Linked DNA regions of Homo sapiens. The protein of the gene in region 1 purifies or fractionates together with the protein of each later gene. This does not show direct contact. Each region holds a gene or a part of one and is shown on either strand. Other genes may lie near its edges.

Region 1 (7,032 bases):
CCCTAGTGGGGCTGGAAATGCCAGGCTGAGGGACTTAAGCTGTCTGGGGGGTACTAGGGAGTCACAGAGGGTTCTATAGGTAAAGAGGGGACAGGTTGGATTTGGTGTCTCAGTAGGTTCCCCAAGCCTCCGTGTGGAGGGTGCGCTAGAAGGGAGACTGAGCCCAGCGGTTGGATGGGGCCGGAGCAAGGTGCAGATGGAGAGAAAGAAGGAAACGGGGGAAGGAGAGTCACTCAGGAGGATTGGCAGGCTGTCGGGGGAGGGGAATGTTATGCAGATGGGGATGGTCCTAGGAGTGAGGGCCTCTGAGACAGGACCGGGAGGAAGAATATACTTGGGGAGACATTGGGGAGACATTCTGGGACCTGGTAGGGGCAAAGGGACTAGGAGGTCCCAGGGAAAGGTATTTAAAAGGTATTTAAAGGACTGCAGGAGCCCTGACCTGGGACCTGGAAGAGGGTCTAGGGCTGGGGACAGAGGGGAAACTGAGTCCACAGAGGTGGGTGAGACAGACTTAGGGGCAAGGAGGAGCAGGGGGAGGCTGCGGCCAGCCCTACAAACTCTGGATTTTACGGAGTAGGTAGAGGGTGGGTGAAGACAGCAGCCTCAGAGGCGGGAAGGAAAATCAGGTGCGCCTGGTGTCCCAGAAGTCCAAAGAGGAGAGCATTTATACAGGAAGCTGCAGTCATGTAAGATGAGGCCCGAGACACGGAGCCACCAGTTGAGTGGATTTTCAGAGCCAGAGAGCCAAAGGTGTTACGCGTGGGGGTCTTTGCAGCCAAATGGTGGAGGCGGAAGAACTGACCTATGAGAAGACCCAAGGCATCCAGAGGGGCCTGGAGAAGCAGGGGCAGAGAGTCTCAGGGAGATGTAGGGGTGGGGGAGGTCTGGCTTACCAAGGGAAATAGCCCTGCTGCTGGGATCAAAGAATTGATGTTGACGTGCCGCCTGTCCCAGTAGAGACACGCAGGGAGGATGAGGATGCGTCCCACACCCTGGGCCAGATGAGGATGCTGCCTGTCCCAGTAGAGACACGCAGGGAGGATGAGGATGCGTCCCACACCGTGGGCCAGATGAGGATGCTGCCTGTCCCAGTAGAGACATGCAGGGAGGATGCCTCTCATACTGGGGGAACCCCAGGATGCAGATGCTTCCTGTCCCACTGGAGGCGCTGAAGTCCTCTGAACCACACAGCATGGAAGGAGGTTCTTCCTCTCACCCTAGGAGACACATACATAGTGGCATTGCTTCCTGTCCCACCAGATGTGCCAAGGCCTCTAGGCTGCATTCTGCATGGCCTAGAGCCCTGGCAGGCACAGCTGAAAACAAAGCAAGCAAGACCAGCCCAGTGGCTGTCGGGAGCCAAGACCTCCTGCTGGAACCTGGAGAGTGGTCCTGGGCAGAGTTGGGGGGCAGGCCTGAGAACCCCTCGCAGGACAGGCAGGGGTCAGCCGGCAGTAGTTGGGCTGGTCTGGCCCACTGGGGCCTCTTTTGGGGAAGAGAGTGTTTCCTCATGCCTTGATGGGAGCCACTGAGCTTTCAATTTTTTTTTTTTTTTAATACAGAGTCTCGCTCTGTTGCCCAGGCTAGAGTACAGTGGCGCAATCTTGATTCACTGCAACCTCCACCTCCCGGGTTCAAGCGATTCTCCTGCCTCAGCTTCCCGAGTAGCTGGGACTATAGGCGCCCGCCACCACACCCAGCTAATTTTTGTATTTTTAGTAGAGGCGGGGTTTCACCATGTTGGCCAGGCTGGTCTTGAGCTCCTGACCTCAAGTGATCCACCTGCCTCAGCCTCCCAAAGGACCGGGATTACAGGCATGAGCCACCATGCCCAGCCTGAGCTCTCAAATTCTTAAGACACCCAGATAATGGCCACACCAGGAAGGTCCTAGACCACTCCCTGCTCTGTTCCAGGTGCTGGCCTGGTGCCGGGTTCACCAGCCACATCACCATGGGTGCAGATGGGCGAGCTGGGAGCTCCTGCCACCTTGGGGTGCTTTGCGGCTGCCAAGGGCAGTTGAACCCAAGCCAGGCCCAGCTGAAGGCTTTCAGCAGCCTTTACTCTTTGGCCTTCTTATAATCCCTAGTGAAGGGGTTGGCTTTTATTTATTTATGTATTTATTTATTTATTTATTTTTTGAGACAGAGTCTCGCTCTGTCGCCCAAGCTGAAGTGCAGTGGCGCGATCTCGGCTCACTGCAAGCTCTGCCTCCCGGGTTCAAGCCATTCTCCTGCCTCAGCCTCCCGAGTAGCTGGGATTACAGGTGCCTGCCACTGCGCCCGGCTAATTTTTTGTATTCTTAGTAGAGACGGGGTTTCACCGTGTTAGCCAGGATGGTCTCGATCTCCTGACCTCGTGATCTGCCCACCTCGGCCTCCCAAAGTGCTGGGATTACAGGCGTGAGCCACCGAGCCCGGCTAGGAGTTGGCTTTTAATCTCCAGGACCTCTTTGCCCTGGGAATAAAATCCCTTTTCCTGTGCCACCAGGCCTCCCCAGCTGGCCCCAGCCTTGGTTCCCACTACCTTCCCCAAGCTCTGGCCATCTGGCCATCTCGATGGCCTCTCCAGCCTCTGACATAAGAGAGCCTGCTTATTCTTGCCTCAAGGCCTTTGCCTGTGCTGTTCCCTCTGCCCACAGTGCCCTTCCTTGTGGTCTGTGTGTGGCTGGCACCTCACCTTTCAGAGCTTAGCTCAGAAGTCTCCTCTAGGGGAGGCCCTGTGATCCCTGATCCCCTGCAGAAGCCCACCTGCTGCCCCAGCCTGCACGGTTTTCTTCACAGCCTCTGCCACAATCTGGAAATTATTGGGTTCATTTACTTGTTTCCTTGTTAATGTCTCCCACTCCCCACCTACACGCATGAGAACGTGAACCCCTGAGAGTCGTAACCTTATCTGTCTTCTTTGGGTTATGTTCCCGGAACCTAGAAAGGTGCCAGGCACACAGCGGATGTTCAGTAGGATGGTAAACAAATAAAGCTTCTTTAGGCTGATGAAAAAACTGAGGGTCAGGCGCGGTGGCTCACGCCTGCAATTCCAACACTTTGTTTGGGAGGCTGAGACAAGCAGATAACTTGAGTCTGGGAGTTCACGACCAGCCTGGTCAACATGGCAAACCCCGTCAATACAAAAAATACAAAAATTAGCCATGTGTGGTGGTGTGCGCCTATAATCCCAGCTACTCGGGAGGCTCAGAATTACCTGAGCCTGAGCGCTTGAGACTGCAGTGTGCCATGATCGCGCCGCTGCACTCCAGCCTGGGCAGCACAGTGAAACCCTGTCTCAAAAAAAAAAAAAAGAAAAAGAAAGAGAGAGAGAGAGAAAAAGAAAGAAAGAAAGAAAGAAAGAAAGAAAGAAAGAAAGAAAGAAAGAAAGAAAAGGAAGGAAGGAAGGAAAAGAAAAAAACTGAGGCTGAGGCTCAGAGAGGGGAGGGGAGTTGCTCAGGCCCACACATCTCTGATGATTTATAAAGCATTTATAGAGAACTTGCTATGTGCCAGGCACTTCCGCACAGTGAGAGCCAGGATGGCTTCGTGGCTGTACACAGGGGACCTGGCATCAAACCTGCCCAGGGTTCTGGACGCTGCTCTGCCTCTTCCAGGCTGTCACTGTGGGCACGTGACCCCACTTCTCTGAGCTATCTCAAAAACAGGAATCATAGTTGTGGGATTGAAATAAGGACTAAATGAGCTGATGTATTTAGAACGGTGCTTAGCACCTGGAGGCATCAATACAATTTGAGCTATTCTTCTTCTTCTTGAAAATAACTTTAAATTATTATTTTTAGAAGTAGGTGCTCAGTGGATGCCCATTTAATAGATAAGAAAGTTGAGGCTCAAAGATATGATGGCACCTGCCTTAGGTTCCAGCTAGGAAGGGGTAGGGTCAATATTTTTAAATGAGGCTGGCCAGACGCAGTGGCTCACTCCTGTAATCTCAGCATTTTGGGAGGCTGAGGAAGGAAGATCGCTTCAGCCCAGGAGTTTGAGACCAGCCTGGGCAACATAGCAAGACCACGTCGCTAAAAAAATTAATACATAAAATAAAATGAGGCTGGCAGATTTTCAAGTGGAGGGGCAAATTTGATCTTGCAACTGGGTACCATGAGAGAGGTCTGATTTAGGGGGTATCTAGGGGCAAAGCATCTAGAACAGCAGAAACGACTGAGGCAGCGAGGAAATGCCAGCGGCAGGGAAGAGAGCTACCAAGAGGGCAAAGGTTGGGGGTCACAGTCCCAAGAAGAGATGGCCCAAAGCAAAGACAGAAATACAAAAGCACAGTGTCACTGGGGAGGAGACATTCCCTAAGTGCCAGGAAAGTGCAGGGCGGAGGTGGAGACCGTGGCAGGTGGCCCGGCCATGCCCCCCTCCCAGCTGGAACCCTGGGGGAGCTGGGCACCTGGTTGTTCACACGGCAGGGGAGGAACAGCCCTGTCAACTGCTGGCCCCGGGAAACTGGGCCTGGGGAGGACATGCTTGGGCATAATAAGTTAGCCCTGGGGGCAGGGCAGAGCTGGCCTCGGGCCCAGACCCTGCCGCAATGAGGACAGGCCTGGCTGTGGCCCCAGCATGGTGTCTGTTGCAGGTGGCCGGACTGTGCCATGCTGCTCCAGACCCAAGGTGGCAGCTCTCACTGCGGGGACCCTGCTACTTCTGACAGCCATCGGGGCGGCATCCTGGGCCATTGGTGAGAGCGGTTCCTGTGCCTCTGACCTCCCCTGGCCCCTGCAGCCTCCAGCCTGCCTGCCCTCACCCCTCCCTTCTCTGCAGTGGCTGTTCTCCTCAGGAGTGACCAGGAGCCGCTGTACCCAGGTGAGTGGAGCAGGCTGGGACCCTCTGGGGGAGCCCTGGAGGACACGTGTATCTGGCGGGAGCTCAACAAGCGTATTTGTTGAATAAATGCACAAATGCATGCAGAAATGCTAATCATAATAGTGCATTTGTATTGAGTGCCTGCTATGTACCAGGCACTATTCTAAGCACCCCACATGTCTAACCCAGACTTTTTCAGACACCAGTGTATTACTCATGAGTGCCTCATAAAATTAAATTAGTGAGTTGGAAAACCATGTTTTTTTTTTAAGTATGAAATAGATTCGATTACAGACTATCACAGTACATCTCTCAGTAAGTAAAGGTTATGCTAATTTTTGTTTGTTTTTTTTTTTTTTTGCATCCATATACATGTAATCCCACTGCATCCCCACACTCTGAGGGTGGGACTGTTATTCTCCCTGTTTTACAGATGGGGAAACTGAGGCTTTGAGCAATGCAGCAGTTTGCCCCAGACTACAGAGCTATGGGCTACATCAGGATGTAAAAATGTGTTTCTTACTGCGTGGCATGGTGAAAACATGTTGGGGAGGCATGATATAAATTCAGTGGACCCTTCTAACTCTCCTAGGAGGTAGTTTTTTTGTTTGTTTGTTTTAAAAAAGAAAAAAGTCTTGCTCTGTCACCCAGGCTAGAGTGCAATGGTGCAGTCTCAGCTCACCGCAACCTCTGCCTCCCAGGTTCAAGCGATTCTCCTGCTTCAGCCTCCCAAGTACCTGGGAATACAGGCGTGTGCCACCATGCCCAGTTAATTTTTTGTATTTTTAGTAGAGATGAGATTTCACCATGTTGGCCAGGACGGTCTCTATCTCCTGACCTTGTGATCCACCCGCCTCGGCCTCCCAAAGTGCTGGGATTACAGGCATGAGCCACTGCGCCTGTCCCTGGTAATTAGCTCCATTTTACAGATGTGCAAAATGAGGACCAGAGAGGACATGCAGCTGGGGAACGAGGGGCCAGGAACAGCTCTTAGACTTATCCACTGTAAGTGTGTCTGCAGGCATGTGGAATGAATGGCCACACAAATAAATAGATAAAGAAACTAACTGTGGGATGAATGAATGAATCTTCCCAAATGCCAACTTCAAGCTGCCATTCCCTGATGCAGGACAGCAGGAAAAAAGGGGAAGTTGGGTGGTGGGATGTATTTTTCATGTCTGTGAGCCTCATCTAATTCCATAAAGGATTCAGTTCACACTAAAATCAGAAATGAAAATCCAGACAAGAAAAGCCAACATCAACATTAATCATCATTACCAGCACTTAGCATTTGTATGCACCAGCCAAGGCCTTGGGACCTTATGATATCAACTCATTAAGTCTTCCCAACAACCTGTTGTTTTTCTTTTCTTTTTTTTTTCTTTCTTTCTTTCTTTCTTTTTTTTTTTTTTTTTTTTGAGATGGGGTCTTGCTCTGTCGCCCAGGCTGGAGTGCAGTGACACGATCTTAGCTCATTGTAACCTACATCTCCTGGGCTCAAGCAATCCTCCCATCTCAGCCTTCTGAGTAGCTGGGACTATAGGCTAATGCCACCATGCCTACACAAAATTATTTTGTCAATAACAAATTATTGTTATTTTTATCTTTTTGAGCCAGAGTCTCGCTGTGTCGCCCAGGCAGGAGTGCTGTGGCGCGATCTTGGCTCACTGCAATCTCCATCTCCCAGGTTCAAGTGATTCTCCTGCCTCAGCCTCCTGAGTAGCTAGGACTACAGGCACGTGCCACCACACCCAGCTAATTTTTGTATTTTTAGTAGAGGCGGGGTTTCACCATGTTGGCCAGGATGGTCTCAAACTCCTGACCTCAGGTGATCCACCCGTCTCGGCCTCCCAAAGTGCTGGGACTACAGGCATGAGCCACCACACCCAACCTCATTTTTTAAATTTTTAGTAGAGATGGGATCTTGCTACATTGCCCAGTCTGATCTTGAACTCCTGAGCTCAAAGCAGTCCTCTCAGATCAGCCTCCCAAAGTGCAGGGATTACAGGTGTGCACCACCACAACCCATTTTCCTATGGGGATGCTGAGGCACAGAAAGGCTGAGTGACTTGCCCCAGGTCATGGAGCTAGTCAGTGTCAGGGCTGGGATTTGAACCCAGGCAGCCTGCGTAGTAACTGTATATAGTGTCTACACTTGATTGCTTGTTAAAAAAAAAAAAAAAGAACAGCTGAATTCATTGCCATAGTAAAGACTGACAT
Region 2 (7,032 bases), on another chromosome or scaffold:
TCTCATGGATCTTGTAAAAACCACACAGCAATCAAACCTCGATAAATATATAAATAAAAATTGTGCTACTGCTTTCATAGTGAAAACCATAGGGGGCAAGAAAATGGAGGAATTTGGTCATAAAAGCCTTACTTGAAGAAATGACTATTAGCAGTAGCAAATCCACACAGGTCTGAAGCAACTCGATTCTTACCTCCTGTGGGAAAGAATTTATTGGAGGGGCATAAGGCAGAGTGAGAGACCGAGGCAAATTTTTGAGCAGGAGTGAGAGTATTAAAAAGCTTTAGAGCAGGAACGGAAGGAAGTACACTTTGAAGAAGGCCATGTGGGCTACTTGAGAAATCCAAGTACCTCGTCTGACCCTGGACTTGGGGTTTTATACATTGGCATGATTCCAGGGTTTGCGTTTCTTCTCCCGTGATTCTTCCCTTGGGGTGGGCTGTCTGCATGCGCAGTGGCCTGCCAGCAGCGGGGAGGGGCTGCCTGCAGTGTGTTTACTGAAGTTTTACTCATGCTCACTTGAGGCATTTTTCCCTTACAATTTGAGCCTTCCTAGAGGAAGGGCATATACTAGTTAAAAGCTGCCATTTTGCCTATTAGTGCACATGCTGGAGCCCACTTGCCCAACTCCTGAGATCTTAGTGGGAACCTGCTGATAACCAGCTTTAGGTGTTTTCTATCTAATGGGAGACTGCCTTTCCATGGTGTTGGCGCGACCAATTATTATTTCAGAGAGACAGTTTAACAACGGCCTGACCATCACCTGATGGCCGCCTGACATTCCTGGTGGTGGGGGGCCTTTCCTGCCCTGCTCATGTCTGCCTAGCTGCCTACTCTGACTTTTGAGGCGAAATCTGAACATTTCAAGAAAAGTAGTTAATCTGGAAGTGGGTGGCAGCATTCTTGAGAAGGAGCATTTGGGCAAAGGTCCTGAGGCAGGAGGTAGCATGAGTGAAATAGTGAGAAACTAGGAGATAAATATTGTTGGAACGTGGAGAATGACAAGTAGAATGATGCCACACAGGAAAGCATGGGTCTCGTAGTCCATGCTAAGGAGGAGATCTTAAGTGCGGTGAGAAGCCGTTGAAAGATTTTAAGTAGGGAAGAGTGGATTTGTGTTTTGAAAAGATCACTCTGGCTGCCTACAGAAAGTATGTATTTGTCTATAGAACAGGTAGCAGGAGTCCTGGTGGGGGTCATCATTATTCAGGTGGGACATAATCCTTGCTTAGATTGGCAGGGCGGTGGTAGAGATAGAAAAAAATAAATTGATTCAAGAGCTCCTAAAGATGCAAAGGCATCAGGATTTGGCTATTGGATATGGTAGTGAAGGTGTCAGGAGGCCTAGGATGATAGATTATTTGTTTCATTATGGAAAGTTCTCAAAGCAAAATGTATACCTTCTTGTATTGTATTTTATGATTATGGGAAGCTTTTTTTTTTTTAGTCTTTGCCCTCTGGATATTTTAAGGTCAGCATTTATTAAGATTATCTGCTTGGACTTGCAAAGCACAGAAAGTTCCTTTAATTAAATAAATTATGTCCCAGACTAACACCATTTATCCCAGGTTTTAGCCCTGAGTGACTGTCTACAGTTGACCCATAAGCCTCTGAAAATAAAGGTTTTTAAAGGAAATGTTGACAGATCCATTAAAACAGCAGTCCCCCACCTTTTTAGCACCAGGGACTGGTTTTGTCAAAGACAATTATTCCACAGACTGGGGGAGTTGGGTTGGGTGGGGGATGGTTTGGGGATGAAACTGTTCCGCCTCAGATCATTAGGTATTAGATTCTCATAAGGAGTGTGCAACCCGGATCCCTTGCATGCAGTTCACAATAGGGTTTATGCTCCATGACCCAGGGTTGGGGACCCCTGCATTAAAACATTCAGTACTGGTGAGAAGCTGTGTGTAAACTAATGACTCTCTGGATATGCAAATGCAACTTTAGTCAAGTCATTAATGCCACTTAGGTTCAGGGTGTATATAATAGGACTAATTCAGGAACTAGTAGGCCAAGAGGTTTTATGTGATAGGCAAGCTAACAGGTTTGAAAGGAATATAGCTTAAATGAGGATTAGTGGCTGAACTGATTACCCTGGCAGTCAAGTTCCACCTTACCAAAGCCATTTTATCTCAGTGATGATCAGTTGTAACCTGAAAAATTCTGCCCTTGAACATGAGATTGTACTTCAAATGGAAGCTCTGTTTATACTATTAGGGATGGAGCTATCACTTAGTGAAAGTGTAGTGTCTTAAGTGGTCACTGTTCTCTCAGTTTCCCAGGCTATACACCTTAGGATTGGTTTTTGTTTCCTTTGCTGTTTTCAGTGTCCCATCCCCCTTCTCCCCCCACACATAATAATGATTAAAAATATCACATCACCAAGTCTGAGAAGTCTGGGGTTTATAGACTTCCTGAAATTAATGCAGAACTTTTGCATACATCTACATTTTTTTCTAGGTTGATAATCAGAAGCTTTCATGTTTCCTAAAGTGTCCTCTAAACCAAACAAGGCTTCCAGCCACTGACCATGTGCCCTTTGAAGGCAGGGTTCATGTTTCCTGTTTGTTGAGTATTTCCTCCATCTTTCCTGGTGCTAATTTTATGGAAGGCACATATTAAATATTTTTCAAAGAAACTAAGGTACATCCATTTATGTCTCCCACATAGGTCTGAACATTTCGGAAATGTTTGGCGAATTCCTAAGAATTGTTGTATTTATCACTTCTGTGGAAAAGTTTTCCATCCAGTGGTCTATGTGAGGTCAGGCATCAGCCCTGTTACCACCTGCTTGCCCCTCCCCCATCCCCATCCTCCCCTCCCTAAGACCTCATGAAGAATACTGATAACACCTGAAGTGGGAGTTCCTGCTCTCACAATCTAGTTGGGGGTGGGGAGAGCTATTGCTTAATCCAGTAGCAATGTAAAGAAATAATACAAGAACTGTCACAAGGATATGTTTCATCAGTAGTCAAACCAGTAGGTGGAGAAGGCTTAAAATGGCCTTTGGGGAATGCACAGTTACTAGTAAAGAGAGAATGAAAACTTTTGAACAGCAGTCTATTTTGTGACTTAGGCTGGTTGCATGGGATGGGAGATAACGTGTGAGATACGATTTGGGTTCCTGTATAAACTGTTAGACAATAGTAAATTGGAGAAAGAGGAAGAGAGAAAATAATTCACGAATGAAAAGCAAAATTCTGAGCTTGAGCCATCTGTAAACAGAATATGTGGAAATTCTAACTTGAGTTATTAAAAAAGTTGGTCAGCAAGATTTGAGTAGCTATTGAATGAAGGAAAATGACTGTGATTATTCAGCTCCTAACTAGATAATTGTCTTTGTTCATATTTTGAATTTCGATTCTCATTCCTGAAGAATGAATGTACAATCTGAAAAGTAACTAAATTAAAGATTTCAGTAATAACAGCAACAATAATAGTTTACATATATTGAATCCTTACTTTGGGCCTAATACATATTCTACATGTATTTGGTTGTTTATTTGTAACAACCACCCTCTATTGCAAGTCCGATGGAATCCCAACTTTATAGATGAGACTGTTGTGGTATAGAGAGGTGAACTCTTTGTCCAAGTTTATTCACTTAATTAATTGTAGAGCCAGGATTCAATCTCAGGTGTTCTAACTTCAGAGCTGTGCTCTCTGATCTTGCACTACAGTTTTTAACAACACAGACAAGTACACATGGGCTACATTAAAAGGTGGATATGTAGACGCTAGCTGGGTAATTTCAGATAAACACTGAAGACAATATAGATGGTCCCTGACTTACCATGATTCAGCTTACGATTTTTGACTTTTCAATGGGTTTATCGGTGTGTAACCCTGTCATAAGTCTGAGCACATCTGGACTTAAGATGTCTTATGATTCTTCAAGTTTACAGTGGGTTTGTTGCAGGGTGTAACCCCTTGTAAGTCGAGGAACATCTGTACATGGTAATATGAAAGAGAATGGGAGGCTGGTGCGGTGGTTCATGCTTGTAATCCCAGCGCTTTGGGAGGCCTAGGCAGGCGAATCACTTGAGGTCCGGAGTTTGAGACCAGCCTGGCCAACATGGTGAAACCCTGTCTCTACTAAAAATACAAAAATTAGCCAGGCATGGTAGCACACCCCTGTAATCCCAGCTACTCAGGAGGCTGAGGCAGGATAATTGCTTGAAGCCAGGAGGCGGAGGTTGCAGTAAGTGGAGCTCGCGCCACTACACTCAAGCCTGGGCAACAAAACGAGACTCCATCTCAAAAAAAAAAAATTAAAAACAAAAAGAAAGAGAATGGGTTGGAAGGGACCACTCAGGGAATGTCAGGGAAGGTGATGGCCAGAGCAGAGTCTTCAGGAGTAAGTGTAAGACTATCATGCAAATCTGGCGGAAAAGCATTCCAGGCAGAGGGAACAGAAGTGCAAAATTCCTGAGGTTGGAATGAGGCTGGAGTATTTGAAGCCAGTATGGCCGGAGTTTGTTGAGTTTGGAGGTAGTACAGTACGGGATGAGCTTGAAGATGTAGTCAGGACTCAGATGATGGGGGTGTGTGGCTCTTGTGGTCTGTTATTAGGGTGATTATTTGTTTTAGTTTACATTTGCTGCCCATTAGCCATTATTATCCTTTCACTCTCAGAAGTGTCCTGGGTTGGATGGTAAATTATATGGATGTCTTGCTTAAAGTGTATTTTCCTAGATAAATAAAATGAGTAATAACCCTTTTTGGCCACAGTTTGTGGGCCAGATGCACAAGTAAACAATTGTGCTGGGTAAGACAAAAACTGTATTAGTTAAGTCCACTGAGTCCTGTGGGAGCACAGAGAAAGGAGCATCTAGTGTATGGGACTGGATGCTGTCAGAGAGCTTGTCTTATAAAAAGAGATGCTGGAGAGATGAGGACAGAGGAGACTGTGCAACAGCATAAATAACTGTGACCAATCCTGGGGACTACATGGCTGAAAATTGGGTTGGAGAGGGGTGGAATGGAAGAGAGGACTCTAGAAAGATAAATAGAATCTGAGCCATGAAAGACTTTGAATGGTCAGAGCTGGGCTATAAGGAATAATCTGGAAACAGTGCAAGCTAGATTTTAGTGAGGAGAGAATTATGTCCGAAGGATATAATGAAGCTTAAACTAAGGAGAAGGACCTAGAAACTGAATACAGAGGAAGAGATTATGGAAGTATAATAGAATTGCCCAGTGGGAGGAGGAATCATTCTTGATGGTAAAGGAAAGGATGTTGATGCCTTTAGAAGGAATACAGCTGTCCAAAGCACTGGCTCTCAAACTTCTTTAGGCTTCGGAGTCACCTAGAGGGTGTGAGAAAACGGATTACTTGGCCCCATCCCCCGAATTTCTGATTGAGTAGATTTAGGGTAGAGCAGATAATTTGCATTTCTAACTAGTTCCCCGGGGATGCTGATGCTGCTGGTCCAGGGATCATGCTTTGAGGAGTGCCAGTCTAGAGGTTATATAGATTTGGGGGCTGCAAAATGAAAATGAAAAATTTGGTTTGGTTTGGCATATAGTATTTTATAGAACACAGGTCAGTCAAGTGAAGGTGTCTTAACCAGGTCGATGGAGCTCAGAATGGAATCAGAAGTGGATGCATTTCATTGGCCAGAGGGTGGTGTCTGAAGCACAGGGAGTGGGTTGGTAAGTTAAAGGAGCCTGTGTGGATGGAGGAGAAAAATGTGTGTATTAAGAAGAAACATGGAAAATGCCTTCTTTTAGGCTCTAGGAGGTTGGTGGGGAGAGATGAAAGAAGGCATAGACAGAAGTAAAATGACTTAGACGATATTGCCTAACCGTGAGCAAAAATAATTTCTTTAAGGACAGGGCCATCAACAAATTCAGATGTTAAAATGTTTGAGAACTGATTAGAATGAAAGCTGAAACGAGTGGCTGTGGAAGCATTACCTGCCTGCTAACCTAACCAGTAGTACTTTGGTCTAGAGAGGGACTACAGCAGCATCATCATTAGCATCTCAGTAAATATTGTGGCCCAGAAAAACTGGTTCAGATGATAAAGAAGTTCAGGTCGTGAAGAGTCATCTTCACTATGGGAAAAATACAAATAGAGAAAAAGTTTTATTAGAGAACTGTAACTATCAAAGAGGAACTTAACCCATTTTTGGTTATATCTGGGCTACCATAACTTTATGTGCCTTTCCACCTCTCCCTATCCGCAAGTCTGTGTGTGTGTGTGTGTGTGTGTGTGTGTGTGTGTGTGTGTGTGTGCGCGCACGCGCGTGCGCACAGACACCTATGTATATATATTTTAGTTGTGATCATATATAATACTATATAAGATAGATATTGCAACACATATTAGTCTTTTTTTACTCATGTCTGAAATCTGGTGATTTGAAAAGCTGTGACTAGAAAACCAATTTAATATTTAAAGTTGGAAAATAAATTTTATTCTGAGAACATGAGGCAATTTTTAGTTTTTAGTACATTAATTTGACTGAAGGATATTAAAAAAACAATAGCAAAACTATGCTATTCTCAGCGTAGAGAAAATGTATGCTCAGCATTTCAATACTCTTAGTTTTTAAAAATGAGGTTTATCATTAAATTATAGTTCAGCCCTGTGATCCTGAAAGCAACACTGAGACAACATGAACTGCAGTCACCTAGGGCCTATGTCTTTTTGGAAAGGGAAGAGCTAACTTTCAGTTGCTTAATTTGCTAAGAATCCTGAATATTTCCAAATGAGAAATGTTCTCATTTCTGCACCATTATAAATTCCCTTCTGGGCTTCCCAGCCTTGGAAGCATTTTCAGGCATCACTCCCAAGAAGCATTTAAACATGCCGACAGGGAGACCTGATTCACTTCACTGAATACAAGAACTGGTACACTGAAACTTGAGGAAAAATTTAACTTTACATTATCTAATTAGGTTTATAGAATTGGTGCAGAGCAGCCTGGTTTCCCAAATCTAGAAGGTACGATTAACTATAGTATTATATCAATACCAACTAGTCTGCGAATAGGCTTCTAAGCAATAGGAATCTGTTATTAC
Region 3 (7,032 bases), 210 kb from region 1:
TTTTTTGTATTTTTAGTAGAGACGGGGTTTCACCGTTTTAGCCGGGATGGTCTCGATCTCCTGACCTCGTGATCCGCCCGCCTCGGCCTCCCAAAGTGCTGGGATTACAGGCGTGAGCCACCGCGCCCGGCCCCTTGTTCTTAACTGTAATGCTGCCTCCTGATAGGATGTGCCTGTTGGGACTAAGTAAGGGGCAGTCATTCATTCATTCATTTGGTATTTATCAAGCATCGACTATGTGTCGTTGGTGCTGGGGATAGAGGTGATTGGGATGGCTGAAGTTTCTGTCGTCAAGGAGATGACATTCTGGTGGAGTGAGACTGGCAGTAAATAAGCAGATAAAGAAAGAGTATGAGAATTTCAAAGTCTGGGCACGGTGGCTCACGTCTGTAATCTCAGCACTTTGGGAGGCCAAGGTGGGTGGATCACCTGAGGTCAGGAGTTCCAGACCAGCCTGGCCAACATGGTGAAACCCCGTCTCTACTAAAAATACAAAGATTAGCCAGGCATGGTGGCACATGCCTGTAATCCCAGCTACTCAGGAGGCTGAGGCATGAGAATCGCTTGAACCCAGGAGGCAGAGGTTGCAGTGAGCTGAGATCGCACCACTGTACTGCAGTCTGGGCGACAGAGTGAGACTCTGTCTCAAAAAAAAAAAAAAAAAAAAAGACTCCGTCAAGGTATAAGAATGTCAGAGAGTACTAAGTGTTGCAAAGAAAATAACACCAGGCTGGGTGCATTGGCTCATGCCTGTAAATTTCAGCACTTTGGGAGGCCAAGGCAGGAGGATCACTTGAGCCTAGGAGTTTGAGACCAGCCTGGACAACAAAATGAGACCCCATGTCTACAAAAATTTTAAAAATTTAAAAATTAGCTGGGCATGGTGGCATGTGCCTGTGGTCCCGGCTGCTCAGGAGGCTGAGGTGGGAGGATTGCTTGGGCTTGAGAGGTCAAGGCTTCAGTGAGTCATGATCGTGCCACTGCATTCCAGCCTGGGTGACAGAGTGAGACCCTGTCTTGAAATGAAAAGAAAATAGGCTGGGCGCAGTGGCTCACACCTGTAATCCCAGCACTTTGGGAGGCCGAGGTGGGTGGATCACCTGAGGTCAGGAGATCGAGACCAGCCTGGCCAACATGGTGAAATCCCATCTCTACTAAAAATACAAAATTTAGCCGGGCGTGGTGGTGGGCGCCTGTAATCCCAGCTACTCGGGAGGCTGAGGCAGGAGAATCGCTTGAACCTGGGAGGCGAAGGTTGCGGTGCGCCAAGATTGCGCCACTGCACTCTAGCCTGGGAAACAGTGAGACTCCGTCTTAAAAAAAAAAGAAAAAAGAAAATAGCACTGGGTGATGTGCTACATGGAATGACTTGGGCTGTGAATATGATTTGAGGAGGGCCTGGGCCTGGGCCTTACAGAACCTAGAAGGCAGAGAGGAAGGGGAGGGGCAGGGTGCCAGGGATGAAGGCTCACGTACCTCATGTCTTAGTGTGTGTTCACTGTCTTAAACAAGAATTTAAAGTTGGGCATGGGGCAGAGCGGGGAAGGGAGCATCCCTTTGCAGACCCCAAGAAGCCAGGAACTGGAGCACATTCTGCTAGAGGATCGATGGGAAGCAGGGTTCCAGGGGCTGAGCCTATGTCAGTCCTGTTTCAGAGGAGGCACCAGGCTTGCTTGCCCTGAATTTCTGTGGGCAGCTCAGCCATGAGCATCCTACTGTTATTGAGGTCACAGGGCTGCTTAGGCCCCCTCCTCTCTAACCCAGGGATTGTGCCTGCCTGGACCAGGCGTGACTGCTAAGCTTCTGCCAGGACAAGCCAAATACTGAGGGTGCTTCCTCTGCTGGACGCAAAAGTCCAGGATGACCCCCCAGGCTCTGTCTCGGGGAAGGGGCCCTGCATGCTCCAGGGGCCTCACAGGCCTGGGTCTTTCAAACCACCCCCACCTGGGCCTGTGTTTGATCAAGGCCCTGAGTGTAAACATCCATTGTGTGTGTCCTTTCAGGAAATCCCATAGCCATAGGAGCTTCCTCTGTTTCAGCTTTGAGGATGGGGAAAAGTGGACTCCCCGTGGTGTTCCTAGGGTCACCCACTGTGCTGGGGTTTTTCTGTTGTTGTTGTTTTTTTTCTGTTGCCCAGGCTGGAGTGCAGTGGTGCAATCTCAGCTCACTGCAACCTCTGCCTCGCAAGTTCAAGTGATTCTCCCGCCTCAGCCTCCTGAGTAGCTGGGATTACAGGTGCACACCACCACACCTGGCTAATTTTTGTATCTTTTTGGTAGAGATGGGATTTCGCCATGTTGGCCAGGCTGGTCTCAAACTCCTGACCTCAGGTGATCTGCCTGCCTTGGCCTCCCAAAGTTCTGGGATTACAGATGTGAGCCACCATGCCCGGCCTATCCTGGTTTCAAAAGTGAAAATAGTCCTGGATAAGGTAGAAGGCTGTCCACTCCAGGCATCCCTCCGGTCCGGTGGCTCATTCCCTGCTTTGTCCTTCCATGCTTTGGGTGATGGACCAGCACCTGGACAGGAGGCCCTGTTCCACCTCCTCGGGCTCCTTGGGGTCCAAGTGCCCCCACCTCCAGCTGCACTGCAGCAGAGAGCCCATGGGACCTCTGAAATCATGAAGGTCACCTTTGCGGTGTATAAAGAAGGAACCAGAGGTTGGAGATGTGGAGGAGGCCTGGCTGCTGTTCCCACTGGAGACCTGGCATCTTCTCCCCGACCTAAAACAATGAAAGCAGTGCTCAGCCCGGATGAGATCACGGCCAGCCCAAGACCAGGAACAGGGTACGCCCTGCAGGAAGAAGGTGTGCCCAGACCTTAGGATGGATCAAAAGAAGCCGGAAAACTATATTTTTTGTGAGTTTTGAAAATGTCAGACAGGTCAAACAAAACACAGTGAGGTCCAGCCTCGGCCTACAAGATGCCAGATTTCAACCCCTGGCCTATATGATCTGTTTGCCATGGCAGGCGGTTCCTGTCCACCTCTTTTGTTTATAGCAGGGACCAGCTCTTGAGCTCCAGTGTTGAAGAGGCACGGTCAGGGTCTGATCTGAAGACACTGGTGGCTCATGCCTGTAATCCCAGCACTTCAGGAGGCCGAGGCAGGAGGATTGCTTGAGGACAGGAGCTGGGAGACCAGCCTGGGCAACACAGTGAGACCCAGAGACTACAAAAAAATAAATTTAGCGGGGCATGATGGCACACCCTGCTACTCTGGAGATGGGAAGATTGCTTGAGCCTAGGAGTTCGAAGCTGCAGTGACCCATGATCGCACCACTGCACTCCAGCCTGGGCGACCAAGCTAGGCCCTCTCAAAAAAGATACAGGTGGAAAAATGATGGACGAAGAGGGCATTGTGGCAAACCTGGGGATTTAGGAGAACCTAGTTTGGAATTCTATGAGGATTCAATGAAAGAATGTGTGTAGAGGGGCCCAGCACATAGTAAGAGCTCAATAAACGGTGGGGGCTAGGGGCGGTGGCTCATGCCTGTAATCCCAGCACTTTGGGAGGCTGAGGCAGGTGGATCACTTGAGCCCTGGAGTTCAAGATCAACCTGGACAACAAAGCAAGATCCCATCTCAAAATTAAAAAACAACACCAACAACAAAAAAACAGTGGCTTAGATGCCTGATCATTAGGGTAAGTCGTGTCCTCAACCCCTTCACATCTGCTCTGAAGGTCACCATATCCGGAAGCCTTCCCTGGCCTCCTTGTTTAAAATGGCACAGCCCCCACTCCACGCCTGGCACTCTCTGCTGTCCCTGATTCGTTTTCTCCATACAGCTTATCTTTGTCTGATATGTGACATAGTTAACATTTTATATTTGTCTTTCTTTCCTAGTTAGAATCTGAACTCTAGAAGGGCAAGGGCAAGGATTTATAACTCAAAGGTTCCGGGCTTAGGCCTCTTTTATATTCTTGATTTTGAGGTTAATTAAGAGCTCAGGCCTAGCGAGGTGGCTCATGCCTGGAATCCCAGCACTTTGGGAGGCCCAGGCGGGCAGATCACTTGAGGTCAGGAGTTCCAGACCTGCCTGGCCAACACAGTGAAAAACCTGTCTCTACTAAAAATACAAAAATTAGCCAGTTATGTTGGCAGGCGCCTATAATCCCAGCTACTCAAGAGGCTGAGGCAGGAGAATCGCTTGAACCCAGGAGGCAGAGGCTGCAGTGAGCCAAGATCGTGCCACTGCACTCCAGCCTGGGCAACAGAGCGAGACTCCATCTCAAAAAAAAAAAAAAAATTAAGAGCTCAAAGAGTTTGTTTTCATAGGCAGCAGAATGAGAAAAGTTTACAAAATAGTTTAAATGACAATAAAGTCATTATAGATTAACATAAATAAAATACCTTTTATGAAAAAAATAATCATTTTCTGAAATCAGACAAAACATTGTGAATGAGAAGGTGGCATGGTTTTATTTTTTTGCAAGTCTCCGAAGCCTGGCTGGATAGAAGAGCCTGGCTTCTCAGAGCTGCTTCAGTCTGTTGTGATATCTATTGTATGTCACGTAGCCTCTGGAAAACTCCACAGTTAGTATTGTTGGGAAAATAACTTTGACCTCAGGATCTCCTGAAAACGTCTTGGGGAACCCCAGGGTCTAGAGGCTGCAGTTTGAGAACTGTTGCTGTGGTATCCCAGGTGTCTCAAATACTGCCTAGAACATAGGTGGTACTCAGTAATTATTGTTGAAGGATGAATGAATGAATGAATGAATGAATGAATGAAAGAAAGAAAGAAATGTGTCTTTGAATCCAGCCATGTGCCCAGAATGATGAGACAGATGACAAAAGCTAAGGGACTTTAGCATGAGGAGAGGGGGTTCGTTTCCTTTTTTTTCTTTTTTTTTTGAGATGGAGTCTCACTCTACTGCCCAGGCTAGAGTGCAGTGGTGCAATCTCAGCTCACTGCAATCTCTGCCTCCTGAGTTCAAGCAATTCTCCTGCCTCAGCCTCCAGGGTAGCTGGGACTACAGGTGCGTGCCACCATGCCTAGCTAATTTTTTACATTTTTGGTAGAGATGGGGTTTTACCATGTTGGCCGGGCTGGTCTGGAACTCCTGACCTCAAGTGATCCACCTGCCTCAGCCTCCCAAAGTGTTAGGATTACAGGTGTGAGCCACCATGTCCGGCCAAGAGGGTGTTCATTTCTGCTCCTTGCCAGGTATTGTGTCAGGCACTGGGGACCCAGCAGTGGCTGAGACAGACAGGGCTCTGCCTCACGGAGCCCACATTTTCACCAGGCAAAGGATGGTCGGCCCCTAAGCTGGGAGATAAGACTTCAGCAGTTGGGTGGGGGAGCCGTGGGAGAAGCCCAGCCCACAGGGGGACAGTGCAAATCTAGAACCAAGGCGATGGCAGGGGTGAGGCTGGCACGGTAGCTAGAGACCACGTCGTGCCAAGGGCCTTGGGGACCATGGGACTATGGGACCTTAGGGAAGGCGTCTGGAATGCTGTAGCCAGACACTGTTGCAAGGAGGATTTTTCTGTAGACATGAGGCCTTCCTTATGAAGAAAGCAAGGGTTCTTTCATTCCTGGGGGTGCCAGGTGCTGTGGACTGCAGCACGCGTGGTTGCTGCCGTCACAGAGCTGTCATGCAGGAGGGCAGCGCGTCCTTGGGAAGGTGGCAGGCAGGTCAGGCTAGGAGGAAAGAGGCCGGGAAGCTGAGGGCATTTCCTGCCCGAGATGCCCAATGTAGCCTACTTCTGTCCCCAGTGGCTTAAGGCAGAGTTGCCTGGTAGGTGCCCTGGTCCCACCCTGGTGAAAGGCTGAAGGTATTTAATTAGTGCCTGAGAAGCAGAGAGGAAACAGGATGTGCCAAAACACTTTGATGGATGGTAGAGTTAACAGGCTCCTTGCCTGCAGCTGCTTCAGACAAGAGCGTCCCCAAGCCCTGGGCCTGACCTGGAATGTGGGGATGGAAGGGGAGGGGGAGGAACCAAGGCACTGGGAGGGTAAGTCTCTCTCTCCCACATAGACACACCCACTCCTTATGGGTGCCTGGGCATCTCCTGGTACCTAGAATCTGGCCTGTTTATCTCCACACCCATCCCTGGGGTCTACACTAGGCCCTGTGGGTGGCAGTTCACATCAGGGGAGTTCTGACTTTGGCTCTGAGAGGTGGTTCAGAGATGGCTGTAAGTTGAGAAGCACAGACTGCTGGGTGTGGTGGTTCACGCCTGTAATCCCAGCACTTTGGGAGGCTGAGGTGGGGGTGGATCACCTGAGGTCTGGAGTTCAAAACCAACTTGGTCAACATGGCGAAACTCCATCTCTACTAAAAATGCAAAAATTAGCCAGGTGTGGTGGCAGGTGCCTATAATCCCAGCTACATGGGAGGCTGAGGCAGGAGAATTGCTTGAATCTGGGAGGCGAAGATTGTAGTGAGCCGAGATTAGTTCGCACCATTGCATGCCAGCCTGGGCAACAAGAGTGAAACTCCGATTCAAACAAAAAAAAAAAAAAGCTGGGCATGGTGGAGTGCCTGTAGTCCTAACTACTCAGGTGGGAGGATTGCTTGAGTCCAGGAGGTTGAAGTTGCAGTGGGCTATAATTACACCACTGCACTCCAGCCAGGGCCACAGAGTGAGACCCTGTCTCTAAAGAAAGAAAAAAAAAAACAACCTCAGGCTCCGAGGGCACCATTACTGCTCTATACTGAAGAGCTGTGCAGCTTTTCCAGACCCGAAATGTCATCCACAAAACAGAAGTGATAATGGTCCTGCCTCACAGACTTCTTGCAGTAGTCCAGGTGTTTAGAACGGGGTGTAAAAGGCCGTGTGCCCTTGGTAGGAATCTTTGCATATGCATTTGATCATCTGCAGCCTGCCCAGCCCACTGCTTGCCCCCTCCTGGGTGTGCTGGGAAGGGGTCTTTGGCCCTCCAGGGGTTAGGTGCCCCAGCCTCCAAGGTGCCCTCACGCCTTTTCATCCCGACTCAGATGCTGACCTGACCTTTGACCAGACGGCGTGGGGGGACAGTGGTGTGTATTACTGCTCCGTGGTCTCAGCCCAGGACCTCCAGGGGAAC

What was found.
Region 2: the proteins of HPN (region 1) and GALNT7 purify together in Homo sapiens (co-immunoprecipitation; 2 studies listed by BioGRID and IntAct, with this or other methods). This does not show direct contact.
Region 3: the proteins of HPN (region 1) and LSR purify together in Homo sapiens (co-immunoprecipitation; 2 studies listed by BioGRID and IntAct, with this or other methods). This does not show direct contact.

What each region holds. Positions count from the first base shown.
Region 1 is NC_000019.10:35,044,705-35,051,736, forward strand, and holds part of HPN (serine protease hepsin precursor), read left to right. Parts: intron 1-4,558; exon of another isoform or gene 4,559-4,585; coding exon 4,586-4,687; intron 4,688-4,770; coding exon 4,771-4,812; intron 4,813-5,741; coding exon of another isoform or gene 5,742-5,817; intron 5,818-7,032. UniProt on the Homo sapiens protein: Serine protease that cleaves extracellular substrates, and contributes to the proteolytic processing of growth factors, such as HGF and MST1/HGFL. Plays a role in cell growth and maintenance of cell morphology.
Region 2 is NC_000004.12:173,171,811-173,178,842, forward strand, and holds part of GALNT7 (N-acetylgalactosaminyltransferase 7), read left to right. Parts: intron 1-7,032. UniProt on the Homo sapiens protein: Glycopeptide transferase involved in O-linked oligosaccharide biosynthesis, which catalyzes the transfer of an N-acetyl-D-galactosamine residue to an already glycosylated peptide.
Region 3 is NC_000019.10:35,252,002-35,259,033, forward strand, and holds part of LSR (lipolysis-stimulated lipoprotein receptor isoform 2 precursor), read left to right. Parts: intron 1-6,943; coding exon 6,944-7,032. UniProt on the Homo sapiens protein: Probable role in the clearance of triglyceride-rich lipoprotein from blood. Binds chylomicrons, LDL and VLDL in presence of free fatty acids and allows their subsequent uptake in the cells.